7 linked regions of the Homo sapiens genome follow. The protein of the gene in region 1 purifies or fractionates together with the protein of each later gene. This does not show direct contact. Each region holds a gene or a part of one and is shown on either strand. Other genes may lie near its edges. The genes, in order: AGAP1, NAV1, TESK2, RASAL2, MELK, TANC1 and KIF13B.

What was found.
Region 2: the proteins of AGAP1 (region 1) and NAV1 purify together in Homo sapiens (affinity purification with mass spectrometry, with the first as the bait; one large-scale study listed by BioGRID). This does not show direct contact.
Region 3: the proteins of AGAP1 (region 1) and TESK2 purify together in Homo sapiens (affinity purification with mass spectrometry, with the first as the bait; one large-scale study listed by BioGRID). This does not show direct contact.
Region 4: the proteins of AGAP1 (region 1) and RASAL2 purify together in Homo sapiens (affinity purification with mass spectrometry, with the first as the bait; one large-scale study listed by BioGRID). This does not show direct contact.
Region 5: the proteins of AGAP1 (region 1) and MELK purify together in Homo sapiens (affinity purification with mass spectrometry, with the first as the bait; one large-scale study listed by BioGRID). This does not show direct contact.
Region 6: the proteins of AGAP1 (region 1) and TANC1 purify together in Homo sapiens (affinity purification with mass spectrometry; one large-scale study listed by BioGRID and IntAct). This does not show direct contact.
Region 7: the proteins of AGAP1 (region 1) and KIF13B purify together in Homo sapiens (affinity purification with mass spectrometry, with the first as the bait; one large-scale study listed by BioGRID). This does not show direct contact.

Annotation. Positions count from the first base shown.
Region 1 is NC_000002.12:236,039,543-236,043,042, forward strand, and holds part of AGAP1 (arf-GAP with GTPase, ANK repeat and PH domain-containing protein 1), read left to right. Parts: intron 1-1,208; coding exon 1,209-1,299; intron 1,300-3,500. UniProt on the Homo sapiens protein: GTPase-activating protein for ARF1 and, to a lesser extent, ARF5. Directly and specifically regulates the adapter protein 3 (AP-3)-dependent trafficking of proteins in the endosomal-lysosomal system.
Region 2 is NC_000001.11:201,780,127-201,783,626, forward strand, and holds part of NAV1 (neuron navigator 1), read left to right. Parts: intron 1-294; coding exon 295-433; intron 434-885; coding exon 886-1,183; intron 1,184-2,049; coding exon 2,050-2,743; intron 2,744-3,279; coding exon 3,280-3,500. UniProt on the Homo sapiens protein: May be involved in neuronal migration.
Region 3 is NC_000001.11:45,355,164-45,358,663, forward strand, and holds part of TESK2 (dual specificity testis-specific protein kinase 2), read right to left. Parts: exon of another isoform or gene 3,489-3,500; intron 287-3,488; coding exon 140-286; intron 1-139. UniProt on the Homo sapiens protein: Dual specificity protein kinase activity catalyzing autophosphorylation and phosphorylation of exogenous substrates on both serine/threonine and tyrosine residues. Phosphorylates cofilin at 'Ser-3'. May play an important role in spermatogenesis.
Region 4 is NC_000001.11:178,454,104-178,457,603, forward strand, and holds part of RASAL2 (ras GTPase-activating protein nGAP), read left to right. Parts: intron 1-343; coding exon 344-545; intron 546-2,596; coding exon of another isoform or gene 2,597-2,617; coding exon 2,618-2,796; intron 2,797-3,500. UniProt on the Homo sapiens protein: Inhibitory regulator of the Ras-cyclic AMP pathway.
Region 5 is NC_000009.12:36,673,895-36,678,182, forward strand, and holds the end of MELK (maternal embryonic leucine zipper kinase), read left to right. Parts: intron 1-939; coding exon 940-1,043; intron 1,044-3,265; coding exon 3,266-3,443; 3' UTR 3,444-3,788; downstream 3,789-4,288. UniProt on the Homo sapiens protein: Serine/threonine-protein kinase involved in various processes such as cell cycle regulation, self-renewal of stem cells, apoptosis and splicing regulation. Has a broad substrate specificity; phosphorylates BCL2L14, CDC25B, MAP3K5/ASK1 and ZNF622.
Region 6 is NC_000002.12:159,174,640-159,178,139, forward strand, and holds part of TANC1 (protein TANC1), read left to right. Parts: intron 1-313; coding exon 314-545; intron 546-1,712; coding exon 1,713-1,879; intron 1,880-3,500. UniProt on the Homo sapiens protein: May be a scaffold component in the postsynaptic density.
Region 7 is NC_000008.11:29,256,571-29,260,070, reverse strand, and holds part of KIF13B (kinesin-like protein KIF13B), read left to right. Parts: intron 1-3,500. UniProt on the Homo sapiens protein: Involved in reorganization of the cortical cytoskeleton. Regulates axon formation by promoting the formation of extra axons. May be functionally important for the intracellular trafficking of MAGUKs and associated protein complexes.

The sequences.
Region 1 (3,500 bases):
TAGCAATCATATGTTCTTACAGCATCGTTTATGATAGAGAAAAATTGGAAGCAACTTAAATGTCCATCAAAGAGAACTTGATAAGTAGGTCTTCACTAAGTGGAATGCTATGCAGCCATTTAAAATGATGATGTCAGAGAGTATGTGACAGCAGTGAGCAATGAACAAGTTTCGTTAGGCTGGAAAGGGCAGGTTTCTATGCAGCAATATGTATTACGCTGGCTTTTTAAAGTACATATGTGTATGTAGATGTGCTTAAACAACAGGCTAAAAGAACAGACATCAAAATGTTAATAATGCTTAACTATGGATGGCCGTATGATTGTTTATTAATTTTATGTTCTTTTTCCCCTCTCTGTATTTTCTAAACTTGCTTCAATGAGCATGTATGTTTTTAAATCCTTTTTAAAGAAGACCATAGAGCCAGGTGTGGTGGCTCACACCTGTAATCTCAACACTATAGGAGGCTAAGGCAGGAGGATCACTTGAGCCCACGAGTTCAAGGCTGCAGTGAGCTATGATCACACCACTGCACCCCAGCCTCAGCCACAGAGCGAGACACTGGCTCAAAAAATAATAATAATAAATAAATAAATAAAAATAAAGCAAGCCATCAAGTGTAAGGTTAAGAATCAGCACTCCCAGCTATACTCGTGTTTCTCCCTGCCCCCACCCTGGCGAGTGGCTTTGTCACTGTGGCAACCGAGGGTCTTCAGATGACATGTGCATCTCCCAGGGTGACGTGTGGTATGAATGGGGTTTTCTGACAAGGAACCATGAGATATGTCTTACATTGCTGATGAAGCCCTAACCCTGGGCTTATAAACGGATTATTTCTTTCTCATTCTTCTTACCAAGTAGACATGTGGCTACTGCCCAGAAGGTTACCCATTTACCTTCTCCAGGTTACCATGGTCCATGCGTATTCACAGATGATCCAGAACTCTCCTCTTTGCTCATTTCTGGCAGAGTCCGTCTCAGCTGATGAGTTAAAATGTGACATTTCCTCCCTCCCCCCGCCCCATGCATGATGATTTCTTCTTCAGTTATGCTCTTTCCCAAAGACATCAAAACAAGAGTGATTGTTTAGAAATTACCCTCGTCCTACATTTGCTCCCAATCTGTTTGATCTTTCCCTGATGTTATCAGTGATGTGCGTTTCTCCCGGGGTGCTTACGCCTTGTATTTGTGTCTTCCTCCGTGCCCAGTCCCGGCTGACGAGCCAGAGCGAGGCCATGGCCCTGCAGTCGATCCGGAACATGCGCGGGAACTCCCACTGTGTGGACTGCGAGACCCAGAGTAAGTGTGTGCGGTGGTAGCAGGGGCTGGCGCTGTGTAGCTGGAGACCACATGGTCCCACTAGGCCCGGGTTGCAGGGGACTCACATCTGTCCTGTTTGGCAGATAAGAGTTAACTGCTTTTAGGAAATTGAGATATTTTGTTTGGATTTTACCTTAACAGAGTGCCTTCCACACAAGCCTCACCCCTGGCTGCAGGGTGCGTTTCTGTGAGTCTTTCCTTGCCTTAGGCATCCGATGAGCAGCAGTCATACCTGAGGTGCAAAGGATTCAACCCCACACCCACAGCCTGTGCCAAATCTAGGAAGCCCAGGAATTCAAGACGAGCCTGGGCAACACAGGGAGAACCCGTCTCTACAGAAAATTAAAAATTAACTAGGCGTGGCAGCTGGCTTACTTTTTGCTTAATCAGTGATCACTTGTTGATTTTTTTTTTTTTTCATAAAAATAGAATATAATTGGTTCATTCCTGCCTAGAGATTCTTGGGTATTGTTTTTTTAAATTCACAATCATATGTTCTGGGTTTTGCCATCAAATGATGTCTTGTTTTTTTTTGGTCTTAAATCCATTACCCACTAAAGCCTCTGATTGAACTGATAGAAGTTGTAATTACTGCTTTGTGCCATCGAGTACCCCAGTTTTATTTCATGATTTCCGTTGTCTAATCCATACTATTACTTTCCCTTTGAAAAAGTCATTTTGTTGTTCATAATCTTGAGAGTAGGGACTTATTTTCATGGTTGCAGTCCCAGCCCAGAGACAGTATTGGAGACATTCAGTAAATTTCTTCCCTTCAGATTTTTTTTGTTAAGTAGTGTTTTGAAGAGAAGGAAGTTCAGTTCAAACAAGGTAAGAGGTGCTGGTACCAGGCTGGGTGCTGCCCAGGAGTCAAACGTGCATGGCGTGGTGGGTCCTGCCATCCTGAAGCCTGAAATGCACTGGACAAGGCACCAACCTGCTGACCATGGAGCTAAGCGCTGGGGAGAGCCATCGGGGGCATGCGGCGGTCTTGCCACCCATGCAGGAGCTGTCGTGTCAGCAGGGCTCTGGAGATGGGCAGGGTTTGTACAGGGAAGGGGCCGAAGGAATCACTGTGAGCAAAGGGAGTGGCTTGAGGAGAGCTTCTCTGGGTGGTTGTAGGATTAGAGATGCTTTTTGGGCTGGAAAACCAGTAGAAGCTAGTTGGAGTGTGAGTGCCAAGTGAAACTTTTTCCAGCTTTGTTCTTCATTTGTAAGCAGAGAGACATCATTGGAGTTTTAGAGCAGGAAGGAGATGGACCCTGAGCTCCACTTGGGGAGATGGATCTGGCCAGACCATTTTGAACATACTGGAATAGAGGCAAAGCAGGGAGGAGGCCAGCCAGGGTCGGCTTGGCCGGGAAGGGAGACAGGAGCCCAGGACTGCTCCAGACAAAAGGGAAAGGAAGCGCCCCCTCCAAGAGTCCACTCAGCAGCATAGCAGGCAGGGGAGAGATCAAAAGTCTGTCTGCGGCCTCTCTGGAAGCCTGTCCTGCGGGTGAGGGAAGGGGTTCTTCTCCAGGTATCTTGAGGTTCTTCTTTAAAGTACCTCCTTATGTTTGAATGTTTAAGTTTTACTTTCAAATGTGTGGTGAAATGAAGTTCGAAGAGAGAAGCAGTTATTTGAAGTGTGTTTCTATCAAAAAGTTTTAAAAGTAAGAGCTTTTTTAAAAGCACGAATCTGAGAAATATTAGAACATCCATTAAGGAAAATGCCTGCAGTTGTTTCCACCGTGCGTCTGAAGGTCGCTTTAAAAGGAAAGCCATCCGTGGCTTGCGGGGACCATGATACCTGGCAAATCGGAGGTCGCAGGTCCTGTCTGAGATGAGCTTGTGCATGTGAGTGCGGATGGGGGGTGGGAAAGGGAGGCCAGTGCAGGGGAGGTGTGGGCCAGTTTGTTCTGAGCAAGACCACCTGAGCAGATGGACAGGGACAAAGGGAAAAGGCAGAGTTTGACAATTCAGGAGAAAGAGGCGATACCAAGCACGCATTTGCTAAATGTGTGGTCTGTGTCAGCCCGGTGCCAAACCCTCCCATGCGCTGTCTTTTCATTCTGCAACCCTAGTAGTTGGTGCCCCTGTGGGCCCCACTTAAAGGGGAGGAATTGAGGAGCCTGAAGGGTCAAGTCATTTGTCTGAGGTCACAGAAATAGCAAGTCCCAAAGCAGGATTCAAACCCATCT
Region 2 (3,500 bases), on another chromosome or scaffold:
ATTGATCCAAAAATTACCTTGCCTTTATAAAATACCTTTCTGTTAAGAAGATACAACGTTTTCTCTTGCCAGATAAAGGCAGAGTCTCTTCCTTTTGTAAAAGAACATCACCAAATTACAAGGAAGTTTAAGTCACACTTTGAGTTGCTGACAAACCTAGGACAAACCCCCAGGTTTTCTCCTTTTGGCTAGCCTATATACTGGTGCAGAGCCATTCTTGCATCAATGTGAAACATTTATTTTTTGCCTGGGCTTCTGTTTTAACGATTGACCTTCATCTCTCCTGTCCTGTAGCTGGGATGAAAGCAGCTCCATCAGTAGTGGACTCAGCGATGCCTCAGACAATCTCAGTTCAGAAGAATTCAATGCCAGCTCCTCACTCAACTCCCTCCCAAGTACTCCCACTGCTTCTCGCAGGAACTCAACAATAGTGGTACGTGAGTTTGCAAACACCCAAGCTGCCATCTCAAGATGAACCACAGGGCAAATGGCATTATCTGTGTATGGGGTTGCACGTACACACCCACTCCATGGGATTGGTTCTCATAGGCCTTTGGCCAGGTCATTTTAGAGTTGCCCCCACCCCCTCCCAAAAAAAGCTAAGGCTACTCACCCAAGACATTAGATGTTGTCATATTGTGTATACTTAGTGCCTACACCAATCTAGAGTGATACATGTAAGAGCTATTCCAACTGGAGAAAAAGAAACCCCGAGATATATGTCATCTGCTGTTGGAAACCCTAGGGGTATAGGTAGAAACCCTCAGTTTGACTTAATACTCTGAGATGAGCAGCGCCAGGTACTAACTAAAATCAATCCTGTCAGCTATCCAGTCTCCCATCTGCATAGAAGTATCTCACTCTGCCTTTTTCTCTTTTCTTTAGCTACGCACAGACTCAGAGAAGCGCTCACTGGCAGAAAGTGGGCTGAGCTGGTTTAGTGAATCAGAGGAGAAAGCCCCTAAAAAACTGGAGTACGACAGTGGTAGCCTGAAGATGGAACCTGGGACTTCTAAGTGGCGGAGGGAGCGGCCTGAGAGCTGTGATGATTCATCCAAGGGTGGAGAACTGAAAAAGCCCATCAGCCTGGGCCACCCTGGTTCCCTGAAGAAGGGCAAGACCCCACCTGTGGCTGTAACTTCCCCCATCACTCACACAGCCCAGAGTGCCCTCAAAGTCGCAGGTGAGCCTGGAATAAAGGAAGGTACAAGGGCAAAGACCTAGTTCTTTGGTTGCTCCTCTTCTTAGTGGTCATTAACCCATAGGATGATAGCAAACATTTGCATAGTGCTTTAACAGACATTATCTTATCTGGTCTAAGGACAGTCCCGTGAGTTAGGAAAGATGGGTGTTATTATTTCCATTTTACAAATGTGGAGGAAATAGAAACTCAAAGAGATTAAGTGGCTGGGCCAAAATCCCAGTTAATATGAGGTACAGGAGGAAGTATATTATGTTTAGAGACTAGTTTGGCCTCCTTCCAAACACTTCCAATGCTTGCTTTCTTCTTTCTCCCAAGTTAGTCACTCAAGGCACTTATTTTCATAGGATACAGCTTGACATCTCAGGAAGATCCTAAGAAAACAATAAATAAAATGGCTACAGCAAGAGAATTATAGTGCCCCCAAAGTTGGCCCCTTGGGTAACTTTTAGCCTTAATCAACATTTTCCTGTAGTCTCTAATTACTAAGAGATATTGTCATACTCTATTCCATTTGCTTCCCCACCTTTTTTTTCCCTTCCACAACTAGTTGTTAGATGGATATTCTTGATCATCTTTGTGTTTGCCTCTGCCTTTTTAATCAAAATGGACCATTCTACTCTGGGAGCAAAACAAAAAAAATTCCTAGCCTCCCCACCCCTCCCAGCCAGAGTCTTTCAGACAAGAAACTTTATCAGCTTATCTTGTACCTGTTTACCCAAATTTAGGCCTCTAAAAGTCTACAATACATGGACAATGTTCCCTTCTCCCATGGAGGGAAAGAAAAGGGTGGGTTTTTAAGATACTGGTCAGTTTCAGCTCTTTTCTCATTTCCCGTCCTCTTGCAGGCAAACCTGAGGGCAAAGCTACAGACAAGGGTAAGCTTGCAGTGAAGAATACTGGGCTCCAACGCTCCTCCTCTGATGCTGGTCGGGACCGCCTGAGTGATGCTAAGAAGCCCCCCTCGGGCATTGCTCGCCCCTCCACTTCGGGATCCTTTGGCTACAAGAAGCCTCCTCCTGCCACAGGCACAGCCACTGTCATGCAAACTGGTGGTTCAGCCACTCTCAGCAAGATCCAGAAGTCCTCAGGCATCCCTGTCAAGCCAGTAAATGGGCGCAAGACTAGCTTAGATGTTTCCAACAGTGCAGAGCCAGGATTCCTGGCTCCTGGAGCCCGTTCTAACATCCAGTACCGCAGCCTGCCCCGGCCAGCCAAGTCAAGTTCTATGAGCGTGACCGGCGGGCGGGGTGGACCTCGCCCTGTGAGCAGCAGCATTGACCCCAGTCTCCTCAGCACCAAGCAGGGAGGCCTTACGCCTTCCAGACTGAAGGAGCCTACCAAGGTAGCCAGTGGGCGGACCACTCCAGCCCCTGTCAATCAGACAGATCGGGAAAAGGAGAAGGCCAAAGCCAAGGCAGTGGCCTTGGACTCAGACAACATCTCCTTGAAGAGTATTGGCTCCCCAGAAAGTACTCCCAAGAACCAAGCAAGCCACCCCACAGCCACCAAGCTGGCAGAGCTGCCACCAACCCCTCTCAGGTACCCAATGTGGGCAGCCGCCTCCTTGTCTGTTTGCTTTGTCATTCTTTCGCATATCTCTGCCCTCCTTGGACTAGATGAGGCATGGCCTATCCACCGTTGTCTCTAGGCCTTTGCATGGCTCTTTCCCACCTCTCCCCCATATGCCAAGGTTCTGAAAGAATCTAGTTTCTGACAGTTCTGAAAGACTGAATCCCTCTTTCAAAACTTACCTCATTTGTACTATTCTCTGATCAATGCTTACCCTGTCTTCAGCACTTGTATGGGTGTTTTTACTGTTTATTTACACATATATACCTATTTGCATAAATTCACTTGTATCTCCCATGTGCATATGCTGGCCCCTTATCTAAGCTGAATGTGCCCCAAGTTGGGTATCAGATTTCCTTGCATTGTATTTCACAACAGCATTAGGATAAGCCTCTGTGCTTAGCAAATAGGCAGAAAACAAGACTGGATAGGATTTCTTTAAGGTCCTATCTGCCTCTCACTCTGTAATTCTATTATTCTAAATATTTCGTTTGATCTTCTCTCAGGGCCACAGCGAAGAGCTTTGTCAAACCACCCTCACTAGCCAATCTTGACAAGGTCAACTCCAACAGTCTGGATCTACCATCATCCAGTGATACCACCCATGCTTCAAAGGTCCCAGATCTGCATGCTACAAGCTCAGCATCTGGGGGCCCTCTCCCTTCCTGCTTCACCCCCAGTCCGGCACCCATCCTCAATATTAACTCAGCCAGCTTCTCCCAGGGCC
Region 3 (3,500 bases), on another chromosome or scaffold:
GATGTAGGCTTTCTAAGGACTAACTATAAAATATAATGAATTATGTCCTCTGTGATTAAATGTTAAATCTAACACAGCTTTCTTGGCAAAAGAGAAGGGTGGTATCTCTCAATGAGTTGTGAGAGTAAAGCCTTCATACCTTAGATGTGAGGTCCCGATGAAAAATGCCTTTGAAGTGAAGGTAGCTGAGGCCCACTGCTATGTCATAGGCCAGTTTTACCCTCACAGTCCAAGGCAAATGCAGGTTACTGTCTAGCAACTGTTCCAGGTTCCCGGAGTTGATATACTGCAAAACAGAAGGAAAACCCAGCTACCATTTATCAGAAATATTTAGGCTAGTGGTGAAACCATTAGAGAGTAAACACCTGGAAGAGAGAGACTGTATTTTTTTTTTAAGTTACTGAGGGCTTATTCTGCCTCCAAGCACTATGGTAGGTGCTGCACACAATGACACTTTCCTTTAAGGAGATCACAATCTATTAAGGGACATAGTCAAACAATATCATATAATAAATATTAAAATATAGTTATGTGCAGGTAGGACAACACCATGCAGCAACAAGGATAAAGCTAAACTGTGGAGGCATGTCAGAGGAAATGCAGAGAGGAAATAAGGAGTCAGAAAGGATGACCTGGAGTAGCAGGAAAGTAGCACGAAAGACACAGAGGGAGCAGCATATGCAAAGTTACAGGTTAAGTGCATGATGCATTCAGGAACTTAATTTACTTCGATATGGCCAGAGTGCATTTATAGATGAGTCAGGAAGTGAGGCTGACATGTTTTGCTAAGATATGTGAACTTTATCCTGTCTATAGGAAACAAAAGAAGCATTTTAAGCAGGAGAGCCACATGGTTATATTTGCTTTTTAAAGAAAATATTATTTTAGCCATGGTATGATAGATGGATTAGAGTGAAAAATACAGAGAAAGGGAAATAGGAGATTACTGCAATAATCCTGGTGAGAGCAGGGCATCTGAATCATGGCAATAGTGGAGGCATTGGAACAAGGCAAGATTCAAAATGTATTTAGATGGCAGAATTAAAAAAAAAAAACTTGATAATTGCCTGGATTAGAGAATGAGAGCAATAGGCTATTGGTCCCTGGATGTCATTTTTAAATACCCAGAGAGCAAGGAGAGGAGTAGGTTTTTAGAAGAAGAGGCAATGTTAAAAGAGAGTGAGTTCAGGCCAGGTGTGGTGACTCATGCCTGTAATCCTAGAACTTTGAGAGGTAGAGGATCGCTTGAGCTCAGGAGTTCAGACCGGCCTGAACAGCATAGTGAGAGACTTAGTCTCTACAAAAATAAACAGAATTAGCTGGACGTGATGGTGCACACATGTAGTCCTAGCTACATGGGAAGATCGCCTGAGCCTGGGAGGTTGAGGCTGCAGTGAGCTAAGATCATGCCAATGCACTCCAGCCTGGGTGATAGACAGAGCGAGACCCTGTCTTAAAAAAAAAAAAAAAAAAGATAGTGAGTTCAGCTGGGAGAAGTTAAATTATTAAAGGTACAGGTGCTTATTGGACAACCAAGGTGGAAATGATCTAAATAGAGTCAGTTTGAAGCTTAAGAACAAAGTCTAAGTGAAAGACAATATTTAGGAGGCAAAAACATTGAGCTGAAGCAGTCATGCATTCCAAGGTCATGCATGCCCAGGGTTTAACATGTAAGATGGGAAATCAACAGAATCCCAAGGAACAGGCAAGAATGTCAATAGGAGAACATTCTAAATGTTCAGAAGGACGGCCGGGCGCAATGGCTCATGCCTGTAATCCTAGCACTTTGGGAGGCCGAGGCGGGTGGATCACCTGACATCAGGAGTTCAAGACCAGCCTGGCCAAGATGGTGAAACTCTGTCTCTGTTAAAAATACAAAAAAATTAGCTGAGCATGGTAGCAGGCGTCTGTAATCCCAGCTACTCAAGAGGCTAAGGCAGGAGAATCACTTGAACCCGGGAGGCAGAGGTAGTAGTGAGCTGAGATCGTGCCATTGCACTCCAGCCTGGGCAACAAGAGCTAAACTCCATCTCATAAATAAATAAATAAATAAATAAATAAATAAATAAATAAATAAATGTATGTATGTATGTATGTATGTTCAGAAGGACAATGACATTCTACATGTCAGAAGGAAAGCATTCTACAAAGGAAATGACTGACAGTATCAAAAGCCATGAATGAGGAAGACGAGCTTGAAAGGTATCCACTGAATTTGCAACCAGGAAATCATTGGCAACCTTGGACAGAGCAGTTTCAGTAAAGTGGTTAAGACGAGTAAGACTGAAGTGAACAGAGGAAAGAGTAGCAGATAAGGTTATGGAGAAACTATTTGAAGATAGTCTTGCTGTTCATCATTCCTAAATACCCATGAAGGGCAGCTTTGCTTTTTTAGTAAAAAAAAAAAAAAAGAAAAAAAAGTGAATAAGGCTGGGCACGGTAGGAGGCCAAGGTGGGAGGATCACTTGAGGTCAGGAGTTTGAGACCAGCCTGGGGAAAGTGGCAAAATCCCGTCCCTACAAAAAATACAAAAATTGGCCAGGCACGGTAGCTCCCAGGGGTGGGATCATAGTAGCTAACACCTGTAATCCCAGCACTTTGGGAGGCCAAGGCAGGTGGATTACCTGAGGTCGGGAGTTCGAGACCAGCCTGACCAACATGGAGAAACCCTGTCTCTACTAAAAATACAAAATTAGCCAGGCATGGTGGCGCATGCGTGTAATCCCAGTACTCGAGAGGATGAGGCAGGAGAATCGCTTGAACACGGGAGATGGAGGTTGCAGTAAGCCGAGATTGCACCATTGTACTCCAGCCTGGGCAAGTGACGGAGTGAAACTCCGTCTAAAAAAAAAAAAAAAAAAAAAAAAAGCCTGGGCACAATGGCTCACACCTGTAATCCCAGCACTTTGGGAGGCCAAGGTGGGCAGATCACGAGGTCAGGAGATCGAGACCGTCCTAGCTAACATGCTGAATCCCCGTCTCTACTAAAAATACAAAAAATTAGCCGGGCGTGGTTGCAGGCGCCTGTAGTCCCAGCTACTCGGGAAGTTGAGGCAGGAGAATGGCATGAACCCAGGAGGCGGAGCTTGCAGTGAGCCGAGACTGTACCACTGCACTCCAGCCTGGGCAACAGAGCGAGACTCCATCTCAAAAAAAAAAAAAAATTAGCTGGGTGTGGTGGTGTGTGCCTATAGTCACAGCTACTCACAGGTTGAGGTTGGGATGATCACTTGAACCTCAGGAGGTCAAGGCTGTAGTGAGCCATGATTGTGCCACTAGATTCCAGCCTAGGCAACAGAGAGAGACCCAGTCTCAAAAAAAAGTGAGTAAGTATATGTATTTATAAATAATAATAGCAGCTGTTATTTATATAGTATCTAAATTGTTTCAGGCACTGTTCTGAGAGTTTTGCATATATTATCTCATTTAATCTGCACAATAACCCTATAAGGTAGGTACACTGGTACTTTTTTTCCTTTTTTTTTTCATGTCAGACAACG
Region 4 (3,500 bases), on another chromosome or scaffold:
TTTGTAGAAGCTAGCAGTATTGAAGGTTTGTACTGGTGAGCTTTTGGTAGGTAAGTGAGGGCTATATTGCAGAGAAATTTAAATCCCAGAACTAAAAAAAAAAAAAAAAAAAGGAGTTTTGGCTTTACCCTTTAGAGAGAATAGAAAGCTATTCTCAAAGCATTAGAATATTAAAGTGATATTAAGAAAGTATGTTATAACATTTATCACTTATAGATAATAAACAAAATTAGTCATTCCCTCCACAAAATAAAAAAAAGTAATAGTTCTGTGTAATGTCAAATCAAAATGATCATATCTCTCTTGAATATGTTCTTTCTCATTTTCTCATCCTCTACTTCAGGTTTGGTAACAAAGAGGAATACATGGCATTCATGAATGATTTTTTAGAACATGAATGGGGTGGAATGAAGCGCTTTCTTTTGGAGATCTCTAATCCAGACACCATCTCAAACACCCCAGGCTTTGATGGTTACATTGATCTGGGCCGAGAGCTTTCAGTTTTGCATTCCTTACTGTGGGAAGTAGTTTCCCAACTTGATAAGGTAAAGTAGGTTGGTGGAAGATAGAGAACTTTAATGTACCTGAATTCTGGAAAGTAACTATAGAGTGATAGCACTCACTCTTTCTGCTAATTGAAAGCAACTGTTTACCCTAGAAATCTGAGAGTAAATGGTCATCATTTCTGAGTAAAATATGAGATCGACAACCATGAAACTCTAGAAAACCATGACATTATTAATATATGTTTTTAATAATTATCTGAATTAATGGAGTATATTTCTCTAAATTTATATATACAGAGTGCATATCTGAAAACTTGACTAGAAACTAATATATTGGTATATACAGCCTTATGCATGTCTAATAGGATAAGATGAAACCTCATATAGTAATTTCTAATAAAAGTATAGATTTAGCTAAGAAAATACTAGGTTTATCATGTTTTAAGTAACTACCCATGAAACAAATTTTTTTACTATACAAGTCATAGAGTTTCATATAATTATTAGTGCTAACAGTCATTGTTTTCTTTCTTTACAGATGTGAATTAAGAATACAGAAAGCAATTATTTTTAATCGTTTGCTAAGAATTTTATTATATACCGTATTAATAAGTAAATATACACCATGCCAATCATTTTCTTCCTTCTGGAATTTAACAAAAAGGAATAGATTTGGTAGTAAAAAATAGTCTAAAAGACGTTGGCTAGGCTTATTACAATAATTATTTATTGATGTTTTTGTTTGCTACAGGCACTTTATAAATATGTGTGGTGGTATGTTAGAATAACTTCAAAAGACAGTCATTTTTCTATGATAATGATCTACTTATTTTCCTCTATTTTCCTATCAATAAAAATGCTATATCAGTAAAATTTGAAGGGGAATAAAACCTATTAACAAAGACCACTTTGCTGAGGAAACATATGTGGTAATGTGTCCTCCAGTGCTTAAAATATTTGTAAAACAATAAACTGTTCCTTATTCTCGAGGACCTTTTCTTCACTTTTAGAAATGCTAGCTAGATTTTTAAGTTGCAGCTATGCCAAAGATAAACCCTTTTCATGTGAATCGTAGCCCAACATTATTGAGCAAGTAAAGGCCTTGGTGGCATCTATCCCTGTTTGAGTAGGGTAGAAGAGTCTGTTGATTGTTGAGAAGGCAAAGACCCAAAGGCAGCTATGCCAAACTGACTGACAGTTGAAGGGGACCCCTAAGACCCCATGAGAATAAGAATTCCCTAAATAAAAAAATGATTGAAATGGATAAAGCAAGTATTAAAGAGTTCGTCTTTGTTGAATAACTGCATCTCAGTGGAATGCAGATTCAGTTTTCCTGTGAAATGGGCCTGGTTTATTCAGGATCAAAGTCTTTTTAACGGGCTTTGCTATGTAAACACACTTTCTCCTTTTTAATCTGTGTTTGGTCCTGGGAACCAGGAATACATCTAGACATATCTCATAGAGGAAGTTTACCTGATTTTGCTGTTAAATTAACAATAAAAATTGTCTTACTGATGGAAACTCAGTTGGCAGTGGGTCAGGGTTCCCAAGATTGACTGGGATAGTGGATGGCAGTATCATCTGTGTGCCCTGCAGTACTCTGGATTCCTGAATGAGCACCTTCTTATATGTTGGCATGCATTTCTTTTCTCACATGATCCCTTTTCTTTGAAAGTTTATCATACTAGTTGATCCTCTGATCTTGAAGTTCTTTTGGTTAGAAGGAATTTGGTTCTGCCTCCACCCTCCCCCACCTTGATCTACTAGCCTCCCAAAGATTTAGTTTGCTTCGCATGCCTATTTTAGTTGGAATGGCATTAGTTTGGTAGTTTTGAGCATGTCTTTTAATTTTTACTTGCATAATCCTGATTTCGATTTCCTTTCTTTCCTCGATGTCTGCCGCACCTTGTTTCGCCTCCTCCATTCATCTCGACGCCATGGTTCTGCTGCTCCATAACAATGCATTATGAACCTGCCACTCCCATATGCAAACACTTACCCTTCCCTCCAACCTACACCCCTCCATCAATGGCCATCGTTGTGCCAAAAACAATCTGTGGTGGATGTCGCAATGCTTATTATCCAATTAGGGTGAAAATTCCTTCCTACAGGCGACCGTGGCAAAATTGGGGCCTCTCCCTCGTGTTCTTGCTGATATTACCAAGTCATTGACTAATCCTACGCCAATACAACAGCAACTGAGACGCTTCACTGAACATAACTCCAGTCCAAATGTCAGTGGAAGCCTCTCCTCTGGGCTGCAGAAAATATTTGAAGACCCCACTGACAGGTATGAAAGAGAGAATTTGACCACTATCTCGGAGAAACATAATGTTTAGATTTAGCAGAAGTATATTCAACCTATTTGTTGAATTTACAAGTTTAAAATCATGAGCAACTGAAGACTCATCTGACCTGAGAGCAGTCCAATTATTTGTCATAATAATGCACAAGATCTGGGATGACTTATTTTCTAGAATGGTAGTATAGAGAGTTACAATATATTCCACAAGCATATTTTTAAAATTTCTGTCTTGCTTAGTGGAAGACTAAAGGCTTTATGAAATTCATGTTTCTGTACGTTATAGCATTCAAAATCTTGGAGAACCTCGGTTAAAACCATTTTATAGCTGGCTATGTCAACTGGACAGGTAGATACAATGTCGATGCTTAGACTGTTTTAGGGATTGGCAAGACTTGTGCCTTTTGCAGGGACCTTTCAGTTGTGTGCTTAGAACTTCTTCTCTTGAAGGTTTAGACAAGTAAGTATGAATTGGAATATTTGGGGAAGGTTTAAAACCTAACTAGGAAATTATTGGAATCCTGGTTAAAACTGAAGACAGTGATGGGTTGGTATCTACAGTGTTATTCTGTACCTTTGGGGAAAAAGTAAAAATGCTGGATTTTATTCTAAGCATTGTAATAATTCCCTAATTAGATAAAATCTGAGTTTCCAAAGAAATGTACGTATCCACATAAGAACCTTCGGAGGAG
Region 5 (4,288 bases), on another chromosome or scaffold:
GGGAACAAATACATATTTAAAAATATTTATCCATGTGCCACCCAGAATTACCTTGTCTATCTTGTATCACACTATGAGAAGCACTACCTTAAGAAATTTGTATCTCTTCTTTGGGCCATAGGTTCTTATTTTGAAAAGTAAGATAGTTGGATACTTTTCTTCCTAGGCATTTTGTTATTTATACAATGAACTCAAACCTGAAAGATATAGAAACTATGGTTTTGTTTGACAGTGAAGGTACTTACCAGGAAGGGAGGGATTTTTGTGTGTCCAGGACCCACTAAAACAGTGCCTACCACATAGTAAACATTCAAAAGTAGTTGTTGAATGAATGAAGGATAAATATCAATTAGGAATGAAATTATCTCTGAGAATTAGGCTCTCAGTCAATGAGAAAAAATAATATGACATCACTTTTTTAAAGGAATACCTGTTACATTTATTTCCTCATAGAACTGTCATAAAATCAGCTCCTGGAACTCTATAATATTCTTTAAATAATCCAGAAAGAGTTAAGGAAACATATCCAACTAGGTACAAAGCAAACTTTGTATGGTGTTTGTTTATCTTTCCGTGGTATACATTTCAGGACTGTTAATGTCTCTTAAAATAGTGTGGGAAGGGGAAAATAGGCAAAGCTCAAACAGTTAGATGGGTGCTCTTTAATATTTATTTCTTTAAAAGGATTGGTAGGAGAGGAAGATGAAAGTATGAAAAGGAAGCTATGGGTGTGTTTACTAATAACCATAACTTCTCCAAGCTCTCCCAGTGGGCCATTAACTCACTAAGAGTTGACTGTAAATTCCTTTGATATTTTTTAGGAAATAGTTCCATTTGAAACAGTACTATATTGAGGAGTTTTGGAACTCTTGATCTGGTGTGATGGTCTTTGTGTTGATGTAAAAATTTACTTCTCATCTCTTCTTTTTCTTTTCTTAGCTTCACTATAACGTGACTACAACTAGATTAGTGAATCCAGATCAACTGTTGAATGAAATAATGTCTATTCTTCCAAAGAAGCATGTTGACTTTGTACAAAAGGGGTAAGAAGCACATTTACAAGCTGTTGCATTTATTAGTATCTTTTGGACTTTGAGAAAATAGGAGTTGGTTGGGCGCGGTGGCTCACGCCTGTAATCCCAGCACTTTGGGAGGCTGAGGTGGGCAGATCACTTGAGGCCAAGAGTTCAAGTTCAGCCTGGCCAACATGGAGAAGCCCTGTCTCTACTGAAAATACAAACAATTAGCTGGGCATGGTGGCACATGCCTGTAGTTCCAGCTACGTGGGAGGCTGAGGCATGAGAATCACTTGAACCTGGGTGGAGGCTGCAATGAGCTGAGATCACACCACTGCACTCCAGCATAGGTAACAGAGCGAGACTCTGTCTCAAAAAAAAGAGAAAATAGAAGTTGATCTCCTCACCCCTGTGCTTTAGAAAAAATGTATTTCTCCCACCTCATTCCCAAAAGCTTTTGAGGTAGTGTTATTGCTTATAATTTATTCTCTTTTGTTTGGTTCAAGCTATAAAAGTTTTAGAAGCACAGATATTGTCCCACTTTATTTCAAAATAGGAAAATTCAAAATTCTTCTGGCTTTCTTGTAGATCCTCTATTTTCCTTTGATTGTCTGCTTTACAATAATATTTATAAATTATAATCTAAATTTGTGAGACATTTCAAATGAATCAGGGATTTATACAGAATCCTTCTCTTCATGACTGGCTGTTTTACAGGGCTGGGTTTTCAGTGCTTTAGGAAGTTTTTTCACCTTACCTCTCTCCCGCTGTTGAAGGAACTGCCATCAAAGCCTCCTTGGTTATGATCTCCTGGTCTCAATAGCCAGGCCTCTTCTGGTCACCCAAGATGGCCGTATTTCTAAGCATTTCCATTCAATTATTTCCCTTTAAAATTTCTTTATTAAAGCAACCAGAAGAGACATGCATGGATTTAAACATGTAAATAGAATAGTCAATATAGAGTAAGATTTGAAGAAACAATCTTGTGCAGATATAATTTTTAGTTTTTAGTTATCTGTAAATGTTGGCAAGCATTCCTTCTGTGAACCCTGGCATTCCTCTCAGGCTTCATTAGAACACATCTCTCCCACTCTGATCTCTTCTTCATGCTTGGGGCTATGAGCCTCTGGGCATACCTCTGTCACAGGTCTCTCAATGATCTATTATCTAACATGTGACTAAATTGTTCTATGCCTCATCTTCTTGTCAAGAATCTTAACTTCAGGGTGCTCCTTTTGGCATTTTTGATGTTGACTGCTTATTTTTGAGAGATCAAGCCTCTTTCCCAAAACACATGACTAAGTTAGTAAGAAAAAGAATATTTTGGTACATAACAGTATGAAACAGAAAAAAGTACATAACTGAAACAATGTAACTTCTCCACACATCTGTGGAACAGCACTTAATCAGGAACCCTTAAGTATTTAGGGAATTGAAACTTAAAATCAGTCCTATTTATTGAAGATTGGTAAGACAAACAAAACTCTAAAATAGAATGTAAACTAATTAAATATTATTACATGAATTAAATTTATACAGCTTTGCAGGATCATACGTATGTCTTAAGATGTGTTTCAGGCTTCATTTTGACTGGGCCTTTCCATTCTCAGAGTAGATAATGCGGCAGTTCTATCTATAAATGCCGTACGTTTCAGTTATGGGAATATACCATTTCCTTGGGCTTTTTCTTCTGCTTTTCTTTCTGCCATAAAGTGATGTGATGATCGTCATAAGAGGTTATCTCTCATTACTAATTAGAAAAACCTCAAAAACACACGTGCCTTTCTGACAGGTTACTGGCTTCAGCTTTATTTATATGAAAGACAAGTTTCTGACAAGGCTCACACACATGAAATATTATCTTTCTTGCGCTTTCCTTTGTTGTGAATGTTGTGGAAATGCCCAATGTTTGCGGATTACACGTTGAAAGGATTGCATAAAGAATGCCAGATTTCTTGAGCATGAATGGCATGTATAGCTATGAAACAGGGGCTTTTCTTTGGAGCAAGGGAGACTTGTAATAAAGCCTTTTCATGCTTATTCTTAGGATCCTAGTTCAGTTTCTGGGAAAACACCAGTCATACTCTATTACTAAAGCATAGCTAGGTCATTTGGAAACTGTAAACAGTAATACATTGCTTAATATGAAATAATGGTTCATTTCCTCCACTGGCCTCCTAGAGGCTTAGAAAACTCTTATACAGAATATGGTTCTCCTACTAACTAGCTTCTTATCTTGTTTTTCACAGTTATACACTGAAGTGTCAAACACAGTCAGATTTTGGGAAAGTGACAATGCAATTTGAATTAGAAGTGTGCCAGCTTCAAAAACCCGATGTGGTGGGTATCAGGAGGCAGCGGCTTAAGGGCGATGCCTGGGTTTACAAAAGATTAGTGGAAGACATCCTATCTAGCTGCAAGGTATAATTGATGGATTCTTCCATCCTGCCGGATGAGTGTGGGTGTGATACAGCCTACATAAAGACTGTTATGATCGCTTTGATTTTAAAGTTCATTGGAACTACCAACTTGTTTCTAAAGAGCTATCTTAAGACCAATATCTCTTTGTTTTTAAACAAAAGATATTATTTTGTGTATGAATCTAAATCAAGCCCATCTGTCATTATGTTACTGTCTTTTTTAATCATGTGGTTTTGTATATTAATAATTGTTGACTTTCTTAGATTCACTTCCATATGTGAATGTAAGCTCTTAACTATGTCTCTTTGTAATGTGTAATTTCTTTCTGAAATAAAACCATTTGTGAATATAGCAGGCTTCTCTTTTTTGTATTTGATTTTGATCCAAATAAAACCTCAAATGGCTTCCTGACTATTAAGTAGAGACTATTTGGAGTATGTTTTATCTGTTATCAAATATGCCTTGGGCAGAAAAACAGATAAGAATTCATTTGCATAATTTTTTCCTGTCTGATTTAAGTAGGATTTATTGAGATCGTTAACTGTCACAGCTGTGGTTACCAGAGTTAAACAACACATTTAATATGTTGAATAAAAGAGTATTGACTTTAAGTATGTTTGGTCAACAAATGATAAGTATCCGAACTATGAACCCCCCCTGAAATGTTACTTTATGGTAATTTCCCTAAGTCTCAATGTTGGCCCCAAATTTGTATTTTTATTTCATTTTATTGGTCTCCAAAGGCTAGAACTCAAGTTATATTGGTATGGATTTCACCAATTAAACTAGTTGGAGAAAAAATAGCACTCCTTCTGGTCAGTAGTGAAGGGAATGTTTTGTCATTCATTTAT
Region 6 (3,500 bases), about 77 Mb from region 1:
TGCTGTAAGCCAGGGTAGGTTTTAGGTTTTATGAATGCTGTTTGTTTATATTAAATACAAAAATAAAAAAATAACTTGTGCTGATTTTTATGCTAATCAAGATGGCTTTGTGGATGCAGTTAAAGGTCTGCAAACCACATAAGTGAAGGAAGGAATAAATGGAACAATTATGCTAACAAATGACCCAGTCTTGGGGAATAGATGCTATGTATCTTGTTACCAGCGAATGGGCAGAGTTGTGTTCCTGTTTGAGATTGCAGAAGGAGCTGTGTGAAGAGGGTGAGGTGATGCTGACGGTTCTGCTTCCCCCTAGGTGGTGGCCTACCACTACTGCCAGGCTGACAACACGTACACTTGCCTGGTGCCCGAGTTTGTGCACAGCATCGCAGCTTTGCTCTGCCGGTCCCATCAGCTGGCCGCCTACAGAGACCTTCTGATAAAGGAGCCCCAACTACAGAGCATGCTGAGCCTCCGATCCTGTGTGCAGGACCCGGTGGCAGCTTTCAAGAGGGGAGTGCTGGAGCCACTCACAAACCTGAGAAATGGTACTTCGCAGCAGCTACCCACAGCCCCATCTCAGTAGTGGTACAGCAGACACAGGTGGTCCCCAGAAGGCAGGTGGTCAGCCGGGCTGGGGTAGAAGTGAGGTGGAGCATGGAGAGGATGTCGAAGCCTCCGTGCCCATCCACTCCTCTTTCTCAGAACCAGCCCCATGAGGTCGCTCCTACACCACCCCTATGGTATAGTGTTAAAAGAAGCACCCTGATAAGAATGAATGTGATGACTGAGCAGTTCCAAAGTAGTCAGCTTGTAAGTGTGGGCTGTTTAGGTGACTTGCACCACAGAAGACTGTTGCGTATTTTGCACTCCTAAGTATCTGAGGGAATAAGTGGATTATTTGGAGGAATTTTCCAGCATATATATTTGTCAGGGCCTCTGCTCAGTTGAATTGAAACCTTAAAGTGACTTCTAAAGGTTTCCATTTTAATTGTTTGTCCCCGACAAGGTAATGGACATCAGTGACCTGATGGGCCCTTCAGTTTCCCATCCTCTCTGCCCTGGACTCCTCACCTTTTGAGCTTGTTTACTTGCCCACATGGCACCTCTGCTGGAAGGTGCTAGAGGGATAGAAAACAGATATGTCATCATTTCTTCTCTATTGCCTGGGCAGAAAATCAGCACTAATAAATAGAAAACCAGATTCAGGCTCGCAGAGAAGAGCCCTGTTGGAGGAGTCGGTAGCGTGGAGCTCTCACGCTGTGTTGGTTGTATGGCTTGGCCAGGGCAGTTTGCCCTGGGCTGGGGGCAGCGAGGGGGTCAGTTTCCCTTCCCTGGAATCCACTGGGGAGCTCTCATGGGGGGACCTAGTGACCTTTCCGGATTGGGCCTCTGTATGTGTTCATTATCTTTGTGTAGCCCACCCCAATGACAGTGGTTTATGAAGAGCTAACTGTGTTATATACACGAGTGAGATTCTGCTAACATGTGTCATGCAATATGTTTGTTTTGTGAGAATTGGTTTTCTTTTGGCTCTGTGCTCCAGTTTTCATTATAAATTTAATAGAAAATATGCTTCTGTGAAAACTGTTTCTTGTGCCATATGTAAACCTTTTTAGTTTCTAACACTAAACTGGGCACTAAAATACACTGGGTGTTGCTGTCTTAGAGAAATGTATAATTTCTTAATTTGAAAAAATTATTTTATCCTGTAGAGCAGAAAATTCCTGAAGAAGAATACATTATTTTGATAGATGGCTTAAATGAAGCTGAGTTTCATAAACCTGATTATGGAGATACGCTTTCTTCATTTATTACCAAAATTATTTCTAAATTTCCTGCCTGGTTGAAGTTGATTGTGACTGTAAGAGCAAATTTTCAGGTAACAAAGAATTCTCAAATCTTTCTCCAAGTCCCCATTCCAATTTTACAGTGATAAATGTTAATAACGTAAAACTGTTGTAAACCATTCAGCTGCTTGAATTGGAAACTATGTTAAGAATTTGAAAAACTAGTCCAGAGAGCCAGACTTGGGTGAAACTCTGACCTTTTTAGCCCCAGGTATATTTATCAAGATGTCAGGTAAGTTTCCTGTTGGCATCGAATTGCACGTTCACTTTTCAAATGGTGGCATCTAGCCCTGGTTACCGTCATGGAGTGTGTGGGGCCAAGAGGCCTGCCAGAGTTTAAAGCTACTCCTGCTGGTAGTTATTTGCAAGGGTTTACTGTGGGGCTTTGTGTTTTTTTGAAGGGAAAAATGAAGGTGAAAGATTTTTTTTTTTTTTTTTTTTGAGATAGAGTCTCGCTCTGTCACCCAGGATGGAGTGCAGTGGCATGATCTCGGCTCAATGCAGCCTCCGCCTCCCTGGTTCCAGTGATTCTCCTGCCTTGGCCTCCGGAGTAGCTGGGATTACAGGCATCTGCCACCATGCCCAGCTAATTTTTGTATTTTTAGTAGAGACGGATTTTCACCATGTTGGCCAGGCTGGTCTCCAACTCCTGACCTCAGGTGATCCACCCACCTTGGCCTCCCAAAGTGCTGGGATTACAGGCATGAGCCACTGTGCCTGGCTGAAGGTGAAACATTTTTAAGGCCTATTCCCAGAGGTCTATTTTTTCACAAAACTTAAGCATGAGGTAACATTTGCAGCGAGGGGTAGGGTGATTTTTTTTTTCTCCTCCATCTTCTTCCTCACTTAAACCCTGAAATTGTGTCTTAACCATTGACTCCTTCTATACCTATCCTTTTTCAGTGAAGACTTTTAGACATTAGGTTTTGATTTTTGCCCTTTTATGATATTTATTTAAAAACAGCATTTGGAATTTTTTCATTATAAAAACTGAAATTAGACCTCAGTTGAACTTGATGCGTGTTTTTTGGACATTCAGTTTGTATATTTTTCAGTCATTTTTTACATAGTAAGCACAATTTGTCCATCAGTAGATCATAGGAACCAGGAATCTTACGTTCTTCTTCCCAGCTGTGTAAGTTTTCAGAGCTTCAGATAGCATCCATGTAAAATGGGAATAATTGTATTCTGCCCTCTTTATCTACATTGTTATATTAAATGAGCACGTGCATTTAAATACTTCAGAAACAATAGTGGGAAGTCTTTTTAAAAAGGCAAAACTCTTCTTTGCTTTTAGGTGTCAGATGTGCTTAATCTTTGGAATGGGGAAGAGATGGGAAGGGCACATGAGGCTTCTGGGAGCTGAGGATGTTTTGTTTCTGGGTGCTGGTTACATAGGTATATTTGACTTAGTGAAAATTAGTGACACTGTGCAATTGTCATTTGTACACAAATCATATGTTCATTGTTAGACTTCAATTTAAAAGTTTACTTTAAAAAAGCAATTCATAAAATAACGTGCTATACCAAAGTAGGCAGCTTTGTTAAGATGCGCTGTCGTTGAGACACAGCCCAGGGGCAGACTCAGATTTCCTGATTGGGTTACACAGCCCCAGTGTTTGCTGCATAAAGAAGGATGTCTTTTATCTTGGC
Region 7 (3,500 bases), on another chromosome or scaffold:
ATATTTGTCTAGTCATACATTTATTTTAACATTCCACTAACAAAAGGAAAAAGAAAAAGAAAAAAGTTCACATACTTTCTTCATCCTAACAGCTTTTCATTTCCATGCCAGTTTGTGCTCACACGTGTATGTAATTTTACATAATTTTAATATTACAACCTTTATTTTGCCTTTCTTCATCTGAGATGCAAAGCTAAACAACTAGAGAAAAGGGTAAATTTTTGTCACAAGATCTTCAAGTTCTATTTGCAGATATCGTTTGTTTTCCAGTGTTGTTGTTCAGACTGTACAGCTAAACAGATAATTCTTGTGTGCTTCCATGTGCCGCACAGAACACCCATTCATACATTATTAACCCGTCTAATCATTACAGGAGCTGAAAGTTCTGTAGCCGTAATTGGTGGGATTAGTTAGATCAGCAACATTCTCCTTTCCAGGAATTTGATGTTTTCTAACTTTAGGTGGCTTAAAAAACATTTAATAGGTAAGCAAACATTGATTGAGTGCCTGCCAGGTATCTGGCTTATATTAGATAGGATGAGATCTTAATGCTTTTCCTCAAGGGATTTCCTGTGTGTAAATCTGTATAAGATCAACTACCAAAATAAGTAAATATCTATAAAAGGTGTTTGGAATACCTTTGTTACCTACCTAGCCTAAGGGGGTAGAACCGGGAAACGAAAGAAATGAAGATAGAAACAGTGAAATAGATTATTTCAGGTGTTAGGGAGAATGGACAAGAAATTTATTTCAGGAGATATTTCAAATGAGTTTACTTGGCATTTTCCAATACTTGATGTGGTGAAAGACACAGAAGTATGTAATAATGTCTAATAGAGTCAATGTAGAGTCAGTGCCTTGGTAATCATGATCTAGTATCTCAATGGAGGGACTATTATACAGCGATTAAAATGATGACAGTCAAAACCATTTAACAAGGAAGATCGTTTTCTCTGTTAGTGGAAAAAGAATGTAAAGCTGTACGTGTAACTGATCAAATCTATTATTATTACTATGTAAAAATGTATACAGGAATGGGCAAGAGCTAGAAAGAAACATGAAAAAGTGAAATTGATTGTTCTTGTTAGGGGGATTTTACTTCCTAAAAGTTTTCTTAGGGTTGCCTGTTACCATCATATTCAGTTTCTTAAAGCATGCTTTATGGTTCATGCCTGTGAGGAAATGACTGTCATGGGCTTGAAAAGAAAATGCCTGTGAAAAGATTAGATTAAAAGGTAAACAGCTGTAGCAGGCTGCTAGTTACTAAGTGCCAGGTGAATGACAGGGAAATAAGGGAATCGAGAGGAGTTTAGACTTCACTGAGGAGGGTGAACTTTGGTTGGACTTCCAGGGAGGAAGCTTATGATGTGAGCACGGGAGAGGGGATGGCATGTATTCTTTGAGGAGGAAGTATGGCCTGAGAGTGAGGACACAGAGACTAGAATGAGTAAAGCAGGTTTAGGCAGCAGAGATGAGATCTGCCTGCCAGAATGGAGATTCTGTGAGGATAGCTAGAGAATGATGGGACAGGAAAGGTCAGGTGGATTGCAGGAAGCCCTGAAAGCAGCCAGGCCAGAAGTCCGGACCTAGGGTGGCTGGTCCACGCACTCTGTTTTGCTTCTTGGGACCTTGTATGGGGCTTGGACACAAACACAACGGGGAAAGATTGCTAGATCCCAAAGCAAGATTGGAAGCTTCAGTAGATGACCGATTTCTGGCATAGCTGGGCAGGATTTAAAAGCGCTTGCTGAAAATGAAGCCTTGTGAATGGGAAGCATAAGGAAGTCGGTCAAAATTAAGCAGCTGTGAATCAACAGGCAAAGGAAAAACCCAGCAAGTGCGAGGAAGCTTAGAAGATGCTGGTAGTCAGTGAAGATAGAGGTGACCCTTAGGAAATGAAGGGACAGGAGAAGGTGGCTTTGACCCCTGGGGTCATTGGTGATTCTTCAGTATTCTCAGAGAGATCACTGACAGATGTGGAGCCAAGGAGGACCGTGGATGGAAATTTCTGGCAGTATTTGCTAAAACAGAAGATACTTGTTTTGTCAGCATCTGCTTGACATGCTAATGGTGAATGAGACACACATGTATTACAACATTGTTTTGTTTCTACTGTCAACTCAGTGACTGAAATTTGGATATATGCACATAGGGCCAGAGGCATTTTGAGAAGAAGGTATACTTTTAAATTCTTTTCCCCAAATCTCCTGTTTTTTGTTTGTTGGTTGGTTTCTTTGTTTTTATTTATTTATTTTTTTTGAGACAGGGTCTCCCTCTGTTGCCCAGGCTGGAGTGCAGTGGCATGATCATCACTCACTGCATCCTCAACCTCAACCTCCTGGGCTCTAGCGATATTCCTGCTGCAGCCTGCTGTGGAGTTGGTACATAGGTGTGCACAACCATGTCTGTCTAATTTCAATATTTTTTGTAGAGATAGGGTCTCACTTTGTTGCTCTGGCTGGCCAGACCTCTTTTCAAGAAATATACATTTATAATATAAAATACAATGTTGTTTAATTGGCATTAGCTTTTACCCTCTCACCTCCATAAAACAATAACTGTCCGACTTTTCCACTTCTTAAGTGCTGAAAATGGAAGAAACCACTGACAAAACTATTAATTAAGGAGATGGATTGAAGTGCTGATTGAGTGGAAATGGATGTATTGATCTCTATGCTTGCTCCTCAAGTTCCCCTTGTGTTTGGCAGAGCATGTTCTTTAAAAAAAAAAACAAAAACTCGACCAAGATGAGCAGTGTGCCCTGTGACCTGGGAAGTGCGTGAAACTAACTGGTCCACTCCATGCAAGTCCATGACTTAACTGTATGGGGCTTTCGCTCTGAGGAGATAAAGATATCTTTAGAAAATGGTATCCATTAGTCATTCATTTCAACAGTGTTGACTGAAGAAAAAGAAAATAGCTGCTTTTTGACAACTTTCTATTTGCGAGCAATGGAGTTCAATGCTTTTTAATGCATTATTTTATTCTTCAAACCAGACTTTGAAAAGGAATTGTAGGCCAGGTGTGGTGGCTCACCCCTGTACTCCCAGCACTTTGGGAGGCCGAGGTGGGTGGATCACTTGAGGCCAGGAGTTTGAGACCAGACTGGCCAACATGGTGAAACCCTGTCTCTACTAAAAATACAGAAACTAGCTGGGTGTGGTGGTGAGTGCCTGTAATCCCAGCTACTCAGGAGGCTGAGGTGGGATAATCGCTTCAACCTGGAAGGCGGAGGTTGCAGTGAGCTGAAATCGCACCACTGCACTCTAGCCTGGGCGACAGAGCGAGACTGTCTCAAAACAAACAAACAAACAAACAAAAAAAGTAGTAATTGTAGCATTTCTATGTAGCAGAACCTCAGAGAGGTTAATTAACATTCCCAGAATTACAAAACCCACCTGTGCTTTTACTACAATGTTGGACATGATTATCTTTAAGAGGATCTTGCTATCCTGAGATGACACCATTTTCAAAGATGTGCAGGATAAACTGGAAGCATA